4 linked regions of the Homo sapiens genome follow. The protein of the gene in region 4 purifies or fractionates together with the protein of the main gene of each other region. This does not show direct contact. Each region holds a gene or a part of one and is shown on either strand. Other genes may lie near its edges.

The links. Proteins that work in one complex are often made in the same cells at the same time.
Region 1: the proteins of MARCHF1 (region 4) and CSNK1G3 purify together in Homo sapiens (affinity purification with mass spectrometry; one large-scale study listed by BioGRID and IntAct). This does not show direct contact.
Region 2: the proteins of MARCHF1 (region 4) and ASNS purify together in Homo sapiens (affinity purification with mass spectrometry, with the first as the bait; one large-scale study listed by BioGRID). This does not show direct contact.
Region 3: the proteins of MARCHF1 (region 4) and USP15 purify together in Homo sapiens (affinity purification with mass spectrometry, with the first as the bait; one large-scale study listed by BioGRID). This does not show direct contact.

Annotation. Positions count from the first base shown.
Region 1 is NC_000005.10:123,615,363-123,617,549, forward strand, and holds the end of CSNK1G3 (casein kinase I isoform gamma-3), read left to right. Parts: 3' UTR 1-1,687; downstream 1,688-2,187. UniProt on the Homo sapiens protein: Serine/threonine-protein kinase. Casein kinases are operationally defined by their preferential utilization of acidic proteins such as caseins as substrates. It can phosphorylate a large number of proteins. Participates in Wnt signaling.
Region 2 is NC_000007.14:97,855,409-97,858,908, reverse strand, and holds part of ASNS (asparagine synthetase [glutamine-hydrolyzing]), read left to right. Parts: coding exon 1-55; intron 56-503; coding exon 504-631; intron 632-2,092; coding exon 2,093-2,219; intron 2,220-3,449; coding exon 3,450-3,500.
Region 3 is NC_000012.12:62,382,404-62,385,903, forward strand, and holds part of USP15 (ubiquitin carboxyl-terminal hydrolase 15), read left to right. Parts: intron 1-1,436; coding exon 1,437-1,595; intron 1,596-1,674; coding exon 1,675-1,899; intron 1,900-3,500. UniProt on the Homo sapiens protein: Hydrolase that removes conjugated ubiquitin from target proteins and regulates various pathways such as the TGF-beta receptor signaling, NF-kappa-B and RNF41/NRDP1-PRKN pathways.
Region 4 is NC_000004.12:164,377,520-164,381,019, reverse strand, and holds part of MARCHF1 (E3 ubiquitin-protein ligase MARCHF1), read left to right. Parts: intron 1-3,500. UniProt on the Homo sapiens protein: E3 ubiquitin-protein ligase that mediates ubiquitination of TFRC, CD86, FAS and MHC class II proteins, such as HLA-DR alpha and beta, and promotes their subsequent endocytosis and sorting to lysosomes via multivesicular bodies.

The DNA of each region.
Region 1 (2,187 bases), on a different chromosome or scaffold from region 4:
GCCATGCAATGGTGTCTGTGTAATTATTTTGCTCTTTGATTAAAAAAAAGACCCCCAGCAATAAAAAGTGGGTCACTCTATGCCCTCTGTGCACATTAGTCTCTTGTATTCAACTTTGCTGATTCTCTGGAATTTTCCTACTCTTTAGCATAATTTTGATGATTGAAAAATATTTTGGAAAGGATGGGTCAGGTGCTTTGCCTCCATAGTCTTTTGAAGTGCCTGCATATGAACAACAACAACAACAACAAAAAATTCTGTAAAAAAGGAAGCCCATTCCACTTTTCAAGTATGCTTTGTTTTAAGCCATAAAGACACACATGTAGTTTTGTCACATTCTACTAGCCAAAATTTTCAAGAAGGGTTAAAACAAAGACTGGCTAGAAAGATAATTATTTTGAATAAATCTCATATTCATCTTTCATTTATATAATTGTTACTTATTCCTCCCATGCAGTCTCTTCGTTGTCTTTAAGTGTGTGCCTCCAGGCATGCTTATTTATTTTTATTGTCTCAAGGTAACATTTAAGATGTATATTAAAGTAAAGCTACATTTTTTTACTTCATTATTGCATTTACAGGGATTTAATTGTACTTTGTAATTTATTTTTCTTATTAGCCAAAAGTTTAATGCATTTTTTTTTGATGAATTAGGCACCCACATGAACACCACAAATCAGGACATTGTTTATCATTGTTGCTATGAATCCTATGAATGATCTTTTTTTTATTTTAAAGACCTACACTTAACCTACAAAACATTTGCTGTATAATTTGGTCAACAGTTTCTATCTATCTGTATACTGTCATGATGTCTTAAACTGCAGGAGTTACATACTGAGTTTATATTTTTATTTGCTTTGAGCAAGGTAGATAAACATTTTGGCCATTATAATGTGAAACCACTTCTTCTTTCTTTACAGTATTTGACCAAACTTGTGTGTCTATGATATTTGTAAATACATGCGAATATCTGTATTTCTTATCATAAGCCTATTTAGTTTTATTCTCAGTAGGGTTTTTTGGATTGTACAGTGTTTATATGATCTGAACTCCTTATACATAAGAAGGTGTGTATATTAATCCAATTATGGACTTAAAATATTTTAAAAGTATAAATACCCTTATTTGCTGCAAAGACCAGTGTGTAGGCATTTGCTTTTTAGCAATATTTTTAAGTGCTCCATTTTAATGCCGAGGAATAAGTCTTTTGGCAACACAAACTGGTCAATAATAGGTAATGCAGGTATGTTCAGGTTAAGCCAACAATGTTTTGCATTTTTATGCTTATTTTCTGTCAACACTAATGAAGTCAACATTGCCTGAATGTCTGAATAATGAAACACATCCCTGTTTAAAAGTATGTAACTGAAAAAGAAATAAAAAAAAATAAAAGTAGTTTTTTTAAACTTGCTCTTTCCCATTTCCTCTAAAGATGGGTAAAATAATGTCACTCCCTAATTTAAGATAGGAATTATAAAAATTTGGTTTATTTAGTCTGTTATATATGAGAAGCAGAGCTAAAGGAATATGCTTTTGTTATTTTATGTTTTGTTTTGCTTTCTTGAAATCCAGTGGTAAAAAGCACACACTAGGAAGGATCTAAGCTTTCTTTAATATAAAAAAAATTATACTTCTCTGAACTGTTTAATAGAGCAATAATTAAATACATCTTCTGATAAATTAAGGGAAATAGCATCATTTTTCCTTTTTGAGAATGGAATCATACTATTATGTTCACAGAAATTAAGCATTATTCCAGTTTTAAGTGAATGACTTTAAAATCATTGTAGATGGGGAGCCCATATTTCTAACAGTATCTCATAGTTCATCATTGTGCTAGGTGCTTTAAGGGATTTTACAAAATGGCATTAATGGTACGCTACTTACTGAGGGATGCTACAGGTAAGAAAAGGCAAAGCAGCCCTCTCTCACCCTGTGAATATTGTGTCCATTAAGCAGCAGAGACCTTCAGAAGCAGGAGAAAGATCTGGAGATGACACAAAACTGTTAAAGGCTCTATTTAGAAAAATTCGACTTTAAGATTGGGATTTCAGTCTGAATGAATGTATAGTTGCATTAGTCAGAACTCTTTGAATTGAAAGTGACAGAATTTAACCTGGCTTGAGCAATAAGAGTGTACATTATTTCATTTAACTGAAAAGTTCAGTGGTAGGACTGCCTTCA
Region 2 (3,500 bases), on a different chromosome or scaffold from region 4:
AATGCTGTAAAGAAACGTTTGATGACAGACAGAAGGATTGGCTGCCTTTTATCAGGTGAAGTCAATTAAAAAAACCTAATTATATTTCATGTGTGTTTAATTGAAATGATTTGTAGCCATCCCTTTGGTTTTTACTATAAAATATTTACTGTATGATTTACTCTTTCCTTCATTATAGGATGGAAATGATTTTTTATAAGCTGTATTTAATAGTCATAGTCATACTCCAACTTGAGTTACACTATAGCTATGTTATTGGTGTTAAGAGTGAGTCAGTGAATGTTCTTTAGAATTCTGTGTAGTGATTTTTAACCAATTCAAATACTACTATTATCACAGTTTATATATTTTTCTCTTGTTGAAGTTGATTTCAGTTTATAAAACTTGGCGGATTTTAAATAGTAAAACTATGATCTTGGTGTTTATCAGGAATATACATCTTCTGTCCCTGTCTTATGCAAGGCACATAACTAGGACACTTCCACTTCCTCTTTTGCATGTAGGGGGCTTGGACTCCAGCTTGGTTGCTGCCACTCTGTTGAAGCAGCTGAAAGAAGCCCAAGTACAGTATCCTCTCCAGACATTTGCAATTGGCATGGAAGACAGCCCCGATTTACTGGCTGCTAGAAAGGTAAGGTGCTGTCTCTGTCCCTTGTGTAGTGTAGTTAGAGTAGACTTGTTATTAGAATGAAAATGGAGTCAATAATGGGTGATTCTACTGCTGCTGTATTGACTGGGTCAATTGTTTTAAATTGATTGTATTAAAATAGAATGAAATGGCTGTTGGATATGCACTGTGTTGTACACTGTCCTCTGTGTACTTTTATCTGTTATGACCCATGCAATTCTCACAAAGACCCTATGATGATAAGTATGCTCTTTTGAAAGTAAAGGTGTCTGGGCATGGTGGCCTACACCTGTAATCCCAGCACTTTACGAGGCTGAGGGAGGTAGATTACCTGAGGTCAGGAGTTTGAAACCAGCCTGAGCAACATAATGAAACTCCATCTCTACAAAAAAATACAAAAACTAGCCAGGCTTGGTGACGCATGCCTGTAGTCTTAGCCTTATGGGAGCCTGGGTGACAGAGTGAGACCTTGTCTCAAAAAAAAAAGAAAGTAAAGGCATAAGTCAGGTGCAGTGGCACACACCTATAGTCCCAGATACTTGGGAGGCTGTGGGGGGAGGTCTGAGCTCAGGAGTTCAAGTCCAGGCTGGGCAACGTAGCAAGACCCCATCTTGAAAAATTAAAAAAACGGGTTTTTTGTTCGTTTTTTTTTTTTTTTTTTTTTAAACGTAAAGGCATAGTATCATGGCTAAGACTGCAGACTTTGGAACCTGACTTGTGGTTTGAAATCCTGGCTCTACTCATTTATGTAACCAAAATAATAGTGTCTGCTATGGGGAAATTTTAAGGTGAAATGATATAATTCATGTAAAGTAAGTAGGGTAGAACTTAGCATGTAGTAAGTACTTAATGAGTGTTAGCTGTTATTATTATTTTTGAAAGTACTGTATTTAGAATACTGTGGGCAGAGGGCAGCTTGTCTGTATTCAGTGAGCGGGAGACCTAGTTCCCACTATGGAGGACTTTCGTAGCATGGATGAGAAAAAGCTAGAGAGCAGTCTCAGTGCAAGGTAATCAATGCCGAGAGAATCCAAAATAGCCAAGGAAAGCAGAATGAGGGGAAGGGCCATTCTATATAAGAATAACATCCTGGATATAAAATTAGGCATTTAAGAAGGACCAAAAAAGACCAAGCTTAGCGTGGGACCATGTTGGACTAGAGAGAGATGAGGTGGGTTAGGTAAAATAGGTAGAGAGGGAGGTGCCAACTGGGAGAATGGTTGAAGCCTTGGCACCAGAGGAGCTGAGGGGAGACTTACTTCCTGGTGGTGGAGTTGAAGCAGGCGAGGGAACAGTGCTGGATGGGGCTTGTATGTGGTGGGCTGTAAAGTCATTTTTCTTTTTTTCCCTTGTTTAGTTTTCACCATTGTTAATTCATAAAGCTTTGTGAACTCCCATCATGTTTGATTTTCAAGGGAAGTTATTTTCTTTAACAAGTAAATGGGTATTTCTTTATATAATAAGGTGGCAGATCATATTGGAAGTGAACATTATGAAGTCCTTTTTAACTCTGAGGAAGGCATTCAGGCTCTGGATGAAGTCATATTTTCCTTGGAAACTTATGACATTACAACAGTTCGTGCTTCAGTAGGTAAGGTATTATGATATTCTTAAATAAAAAGCTTTTTTTAATACTGAAAAAAATGTAAGGTTTAAAAAAATTATTTCAAGCCATAGTTTTAAAATGTTATTTAAGGATGAATGCAAATTAAATCCCTATGTTACTGATTATTTAAGACCACTTAAGAATTCTCTGAATCTCTTTTGGAGTGAAGGGAATAGTAAATACGTAGTTCAACCTCCACATTGTTGGTGTCACTGTTGGTGTTTCCCCAGGGAGCAGATACATATTTTCTGCCCTCTACCTCCCATTTCTCTTATAGTTTCTTGGGCTACAGTCTATATACAGTGAGGAAATAGGTCTTTTTGGTAATGCATTTTTGATAAGAAATAGTCATTTTAGATATATTCCATCACACAACTTACCAGTCACTAGCTATCATTGCTCTGCAAACAATACTAATTTTATCTTGTAGATAATGTATCTACTGAGATTGGAAGTATACCCCAAATCAGACTGATCCAGTGTTATTGAGCCTTTATATGCTACTGCCTCCCTTGAGAGACTTGCCTTGGAAGGCAAAAATATCTTAGGTATTACAATGGTTTATGGCCCTCCAAAACATCACAGTAAATAAGCAGATAGACAGGATAGCTCTGGTATTGGAATTTCATGGGGCTGGGGTGAGGTTAGGAAAATAAGTGTCTAAAAAGGCTCTCTAGCTGAGGTGATAATAAAAACAAGGTTGAGAAGAAACACTGGTTTAGAGAGATGTGGTGCAGGACCAAGGAGGCAAGTTTAATAACTTATATAGTCTCCCCAGCTTTATGTGAAATCTGGTAAATGGGGAGTGGCAGGGGGAAAATACCCATCAAAATTAACACTAAACCACCAAAACGGTTATTCTTATTTTTGTGTCATAATACCACTATGAAAGGCATGATTTTTAGGTATTTGAGTCATTGTTCAGCTTAGCAAAGTTTTGAGGTGGACATTCTTGGTCTAAAAACATTAGAATTTTAAAACCTGTTTAGAAAATGACAAAATGGTTCCGGGTTATTTTATTTTACAGTAGTACTTTTGGATTAAGTACATATAAATGGCTTATAAATACAAGGTCATTATTGTGGAAACTACTTTATATTAATATGAAGTCCAGTATAGTAGTAAAGCTTTCAATTATTTCCAAAAATCAAATCAAAGGCATTTTTGGTGGAAGGTTATGTTGACATTAAAGTTAATTTCTCTCTCTCATTTAAGGTATGTATTTAATTTCCAAGTATATTCGGAAGAACACAGATAGCGTGGTGA
Region 3 (3,500 bases), on a different chromosome or scaffold from region 4:
AGAGGACATCTACTGGACAACATTTTTTATTAGCTATATACTAGTTCTTAGAAAATAAAAAACCAGCAAATCAAAATGCCTCTGTATTGTCTTCCTTAACATTCTAAACTTTGGACAAACTAGTCCAGACAAACCATCTCTCAGCTCTTACTAGCATTCTAATTGGTTTTATTTTGGTAGATTTTCTCTCTTAAAATTATGTGTAAATAGGTTCTTTATGTGTGACTTTTTTTCTGTCAGATGATGATTCATACTATTACATTTATTTTCAGTCTCATCCAAAAACAAAAATACTTAGTGATGAAAGATTAGGAAAATTGAATATGAACATTAATGTTTCTGTTATCTCTGTGATACTCATCCTCCTTTTGCGCATAGAAACTAAGTGAGAGCCTAGAGTAGTTATCTTAAAAATGCTTTCAGATACGTAATTATCTTTATGTGGTAATATAGCAAGGATGAGAACCTGCCTCTTCCTGTCTACCTACCAGACATTTATAGGAGGAGGCAATAGGAATACCTAAAGCTAAGAATTAAGGACATCTGGAAAATCCTTTGACAAATAGTGAAACAACAATTAATGACAATGAAATCTATGACCAAACAAAGATCAATACATTTTTATATATTAAAGATTACATGTGTTGATCTATTTTGTCCCAGATAAGCTTTGTTGAGTGCTTACTAGGAATGCAAAACAAAATATAATTCATATATATTCCTGTTGTTCGTGTATACAATTTTTATTATTCACAGGAGTTATGTTCAATGAAGCTGCCACAAACACTGAAATAACAACTACTGAACCATTACTCCTAGGGAAACTATAGGGTTTGATTCCTCCAAGCCTTTGTTCACAACATTTTCGTCAACCAGACAATGTATAACTTTGTTTTGCATGTGTTTCTGTTTAAAAACAACTTGTTTAATATATATTGTTGAGTCCTTAACATTGAACTCACAGCAAACAGTGCTATAACTCATGTCTTAATGAAGCATATCTAACACATACTTTTTCTCCATAAAGCACATCACAGCTTTCTTGCATTTAGGAACACTAGCTGGCATGTTTGTACTTCATTTAGTGACCATTTTAAACACTGAAATTAACAACAAAACAAACAAAAATGTGAAAAAACATAACACTAAATAAACTACAAAGGACACTTGTTTATAGATTCAGAGCTGAAACAACAAGCCAAAGCATCACCTTGTTCAACCCCAGCTGGTAACATGCATATCAGGTGACTCAAATTTTTTGCCACTCTGAAAATATCTACAAATGACCATGAATTGATTTTGGGGTTACAAATACATTTTAGAAAGCAGGCAAATTCACAAATGTGGAATCCATGAATAATGAGAATCTATTGTACATATGTTTAAAAATCAACCCTGTTCCTAGAACTGATTTGATGGTTTTGCATTTCTTACAGACACAGGTAGGACGTTTTGCACCTCAGTTCTCTGGATATCAGCAGCAAGACTGTCAAGAACTGTTAGCTTTCCTATTAGATGGATTACATGAGGATTTGAATAGAATTAGGAAAAAACCATATATACAATTAAAAGATGCAGATGGAAGGCCAGATAAGGTAAATTTCATGATCCTATTGTCACCATTGTTATAATTTTGTGATACCTCTTTCTAATTTGTGTCTATTATCCTTGTAGGTGGTTGCCGAAGAAGCCTGGGAAAACCATTTAAAACGAAATGATTCTATCATAGTAGATATATTTCATGGCCTTTTCAAATCAACTTTAGTTTGTCCTGAGTGTGCTAAGATTTCAGTAACATTTGATCCTTTTTGTTACTTGACACTTCCATTGCCCATGAAAAAAGAACGCACCTTGGAAGTTTACTTAGTTAGAATGGATCCACTTACCAAACCTATGCAGGTAAATCATGGGTTGGTTTGTTTTGTTTTTTTTTTTTTTTTTTTGCATTTGTTATTTTTATTAAAAAATTAGTGTTGAGTCCTTATTATAAAAATTAAGTATTGAATTATCAAGCCCAATCAATAATGTTTATTTGTATAAGAGATTTTATAAGCTGAATACTTTGGAAATCAGTGTAACTTTTTACAGTCTTGAAAGAGCAACGTGTGTCTTATAAAAAATTCTCAAAAGGCTTTTTATAGAGGTTTATTTTTATAATATTGGGGTGAATATTAGCTTATGAAGATCAACATAATATTTTTAATTTTTTTAAACTTCAACTTTCTTTAGTGTTAATTGTAATTTTTTTTTACTAGTGGCTATTGGAAGTAAAGCTAATACTTTTAATTCATAGTGTGATAGTAGTGTATTTAAATACCTGTAATTTTTAGGCATTTTAGGAACTTAAAAGAAAGTAGAAATTCAGTTAGACTAAAAATATTTTGTTCAGTGATGTTCTCTAATTTCTAATACTTTGAAGTATCACATATTGTTTATTCTGTGCAAAAGTCCTGTGGTAAGTCTTACTGTCAAATTGTCTGCCTGATTCCGTTACCTAGTGTTATAATTGGATTATTTATATTTTGTGGGTAAAGCACTATCTTTTCTCCCTTATTTATTAATCAGTTAATCCTCTTCTGACACTTGACCCATCCCAGTGAAAGTAACTTCTTCTTTTTCTACCTCTCTTTCCCTAAATTCTAACACTTAACTAATTTTGTTATAACTTTTGGCTTACTTTTATCTTTTATCCCTAGACTACAAGTCTTTGAAGACAGAGACCTTGTAAACCTTTGTATTTCCAGCTTTTGTGGCTGGTAAATATTAATGCACAAGAAGTATTCAAAAATTTTATTCATCAAGATACTTAACTATGCACCTACTAAGTATAAAGCTCTTTGGCTAAACAAAAAAGATATGATTCCTGCTTTAGAAGATTGTTTTCTGTAAATTTTTAGCCAAATAGCTCAGTTTGTTAGTGCATAATAGTCACGATGTCTATATGAAAGCTATATTTGAACAAAATTATGATCTTACCATTCAGGGATGTATTTGGGTTTATTGTCAACAAAGACAGGGTATATGTAGTGTTCATAAACACACAGTCCTTTTATTCAAAGTAATTAAAGTCTAGTAGATACTAGGTATGTACTCAGTTATGCAAATTTAAGCAATTTGTTTTTCTGCTGCTTTATGTTTTCTTTATGAACTCATTGAACACAATGCCCTCATATCAGTATTTCACTGGAGAGTGCTAAGTACTATCCCTTATCTGTGAGCAGAGCCAATAAAGACCTGCTTTTACTTTTGGCCTGGGGAATATGTGTTCACATTTTTAAAGTTATATCCTTTAGATATTCACTTATTCACTCGTTTATAAGTACAAGATTGTCAACATTCTTTTCAATGGTGAGAAACTATAACAGTGCCAAACCACATCCTTACCTCTCTAGTTTATAACTTTGCAGATATACACCAATGAGTGTAATGGAGCAAGAGAGCGTAGAATAATAAGTATAAATTTACTGCAACAAAAAATAAATGTAGATGTTTTATTTCTC
Region 4 (3,500 bases):
TGTTCCAGTTGTGTGATTTAACAGATACTTTAGGACCTCTATGATAGAGCGAAACGTCCTTTACCCACCTTGAGGCAAAATTGTGTCTTAAACTCAATGAAGAGGTTGTCTTCTGGGCTTTTTCATGGTGTAATTCAAATTCTAGCTTAAGGATGTTTTATGGATCACAAAACATTGTAGCTTTCACTTTCCTGTAGGCCTTTGATAGGGAAATTGGTCAGTAAAACCTTGGCTGAAAGGTTTTTGCATCCTAACTTTTTCTGGAAATACAACAGTGAAAGTCAACGGTTATAGTGTTGCTGAAAATATTTAGGAGTGTGATGATCTAATATTTAGAGGGTTAAAATAATGCTGTTAATGTAGCTTTAAAAATAAAATAAAAATATTTGAGACAAATTCTCTGAAGCCACGATTATCCCTTTGCTATATATTGGGTTCATTTTGCAATTTATGACTCCCCTATGATACTATTAATTCATTTCTACCTCCTAGTGTTTCAGTGATGAACAGTGGTAGGAAATATGTGTTCTACTTTTGACTTTGTCATGTACTTGAGGACAAGGGTCGGAGTCTGTAAACATTAGTTTCATTTTACATAAAATAAAGATGATAATATCTGCCTTGCCTTTCTCATGGGGGACAGTGCATAGCAAATGAACTAGTGTACAAAAATGATTTGGAAAATTCAGGAGGAACTGTGACAAATATTATATATTAGTGAACTTAATCACTTTAAATTTCTAATTAGTTTCAGTTAAAGAAGTAAATTGATAGAGGTGAACCTAATGTGTGAATTCTATTTTATTAGGTTGGTGCAAAAGTAATTGTGGTTTTAGAATATCTGGTATGTTAAATTTGTGGCATTCTTGTCAATGCACTTATAATTTATTCATAAAAATTATGAAGTAAGTGGTTATGTATTTTTATTGCAAGTGTGCTGGCAACAAATTCACTCAGTTTTTGTATGTCTGAAAATATTTTTAAATAGATGTAATTTTTAAAGCTAAGTATAGCATTTTTGTTTGGCAGTTTTTTTTTTTTCAACATGTTGTTATTTTTATTTATTTATTTTTGAGACAGAGCCTCACTCTGTCACCCAGGTGGAATGCAGTGGCGCAATCACTGCTTACTGAAACCTCTGCCTCAAGTGGTTCTCGTCCCTCAGCCTCCTGACTAGCACCATGCCTGGCTAATTTTTGTATTTTTAGCATAGATGGGGTTTCACCATCTATGCTAAAACTCCTGGACTCAAGCAATCTGCCTGCCTCAGCCTCCCAAAGTGCTGAGATTACAGGCATAAGCCACTGTGCCCGGCCAACATTTGTTATTCTTTTGACTTCTCACTTCCATCAAACCTGTCAGTCATATTGTTGCTATGAGGGTAAATGTGTCTTTGTCTCTGGGTGATTTTATGATTTTTCATTTGCCATTATTTTCTTTAGTTTTCTATATATTGCTAGGTATAAGTTTTTTGGATTTATCCTCCAAGTTTGCAGAGCTTCTTGAATTTGTGGATTGTTATCTTTCATCAGGTGAAATTCATTGGTGAATTCTTGACTATTATCTTCTCATAGATAGCTCTACTTCATTGTGTCTGTTTTCCTGAGATCTGAGTTACATGTTTAATAGATGGTTTCACTGTACCCAACATGCTCCCTGTACTTGTTTTACTATTTTCTACTTTTTTTTTCTCTCTGTGCTTGTTTGAGTATTCTTTTGACCTTCTCTTCAGTTTACTAACCTTCTACACCATGCCTGTTATACTGCTCATCCACAGGTTATTACTGTAATTATTGTATTTTTTTAAATTTCCAAGTGTACATTTGATTTTTTCTATAGATTCCAATTTATCTGTTTTCTCCATCTTTTCTTCTATGACTTGGAGCATATTAATCAAACTTATTCTAAGGTTTTAGTCTGCTAATGTCAGCTGTATTGCCGTGAGCCTCTTTTCAGCATATCTTTACTCTTAATTTTAGTTATTGTATATAAAAATTATAAAGACTCAGCCAGGTGCAGTGGCTCATGCCTGTAATCCCAGCACTTTGGGAGGCCTAGGCAGGTGGATCACCTGAGGTCAGGAGTTCGAGACCAGCCTGGCCAACATGGTGAAACCCCATCTCTACTAAAAATACAAAAAATTAGCCAGGCATGGTGGCAGGTGCCTGTAATCCCAGCTACTTGGGAGGCTGAGGCAGGAGAATCACTAGAACCTGGGAGGCAGAGGTTGCAGCAAGCCAAGATCGTGCCATTGCACTCCAGCCTCGGTGACAGAGTGAGACTCTGTCTCAAAAAACAAAAAACAAACTTATAAAGGCTCCAGATGATCTATACATCCCCAAAGAAGTATCAACATTTCCTCTGCTAGACAGATACGGTGGGATGGTAGCCCATAGTTGTAATCCACCCAGTGACTGAGCTGACTCACAAGTTGTTAGACTTCTGGGCTCCCAGATGCCAAGGCGTAGCCACCGCACCCAGCCCAGATGTCTTGAACTTCTACTGGTGCATTCACAGGCCCTCAACACAAGCCAGGACAAGACTCCTGAGAATCCGCTCTTCTTTCCAGAAGCTTCCTTCTCAGTGTCTTAGCCTCCACTCATATGTGTAACTTCAGGCTTTAGCAAATCTCATGTAGGTAAAATCAAGTATGTGTCAAGCTGAGCGCTACACCTTTTACTTCTCACTGAGCTCTTGGCCCCTCATAGCTAATTTTGTCTCTCCAGTCCCTCAAGACTGCCAAAATCTCTGCTAGATTCTTTGTCTCACATCAGTGGTCCTCTGCTCAGGCAAAGCCCGTATTCTTAGTCTCTCACTGTCTTTCCAGATTGGCAATTGCCCCCACTCTTCATCCCGGGGAAAAAACATATTGTGAAAAGTCACATTACCTCCTTGGTACTTCTTCCATCTGTAATCTTGAAGCTTCTAGTCTTGACCTCTTCTGAAACTCTCCACCAGGTTTTATCAGAATACTGTCCTTATATCTGGCTTTTCTAGTTATTGTTGACCAAAACCATCAGCTGAAATGTGTCATTATTTTTAACTGATAATAAACATAGATGTACAGTGATCAAAGATCATTTCTTGATGGTAAAACTGGAGTTAGTAGTCCCATCCCACAGCCTCCTACGCAATACAGCTAACTCCAAACGTATTTTTAGAAGTGGTATAAAACGAAGGCAGGTTCTATCAAACAGCCATTAATATACTATGTGCCATTTTATATTGAGACTGTTTGTCTGTTTTTTAAATTTTGAGGTAAATCTTTGTGACAGTGAAGACCAGTAATTCAAATAGCCAATAGATTAAAGTTATTGGTAACTAAACATAATAAATTGGTAAAACTTTTGTTTCTTTTAGGACTAATACACACCCAAAAATACAGACACAGACACATGTGTGTATGTGTGTGTGTGTGTGTGTGTGTGCATAAAAAGTAAGGCTCCTTTCTGAACACAAGAACTCCATGGTTAACGAATCATTCTAACTTACAAATAAGC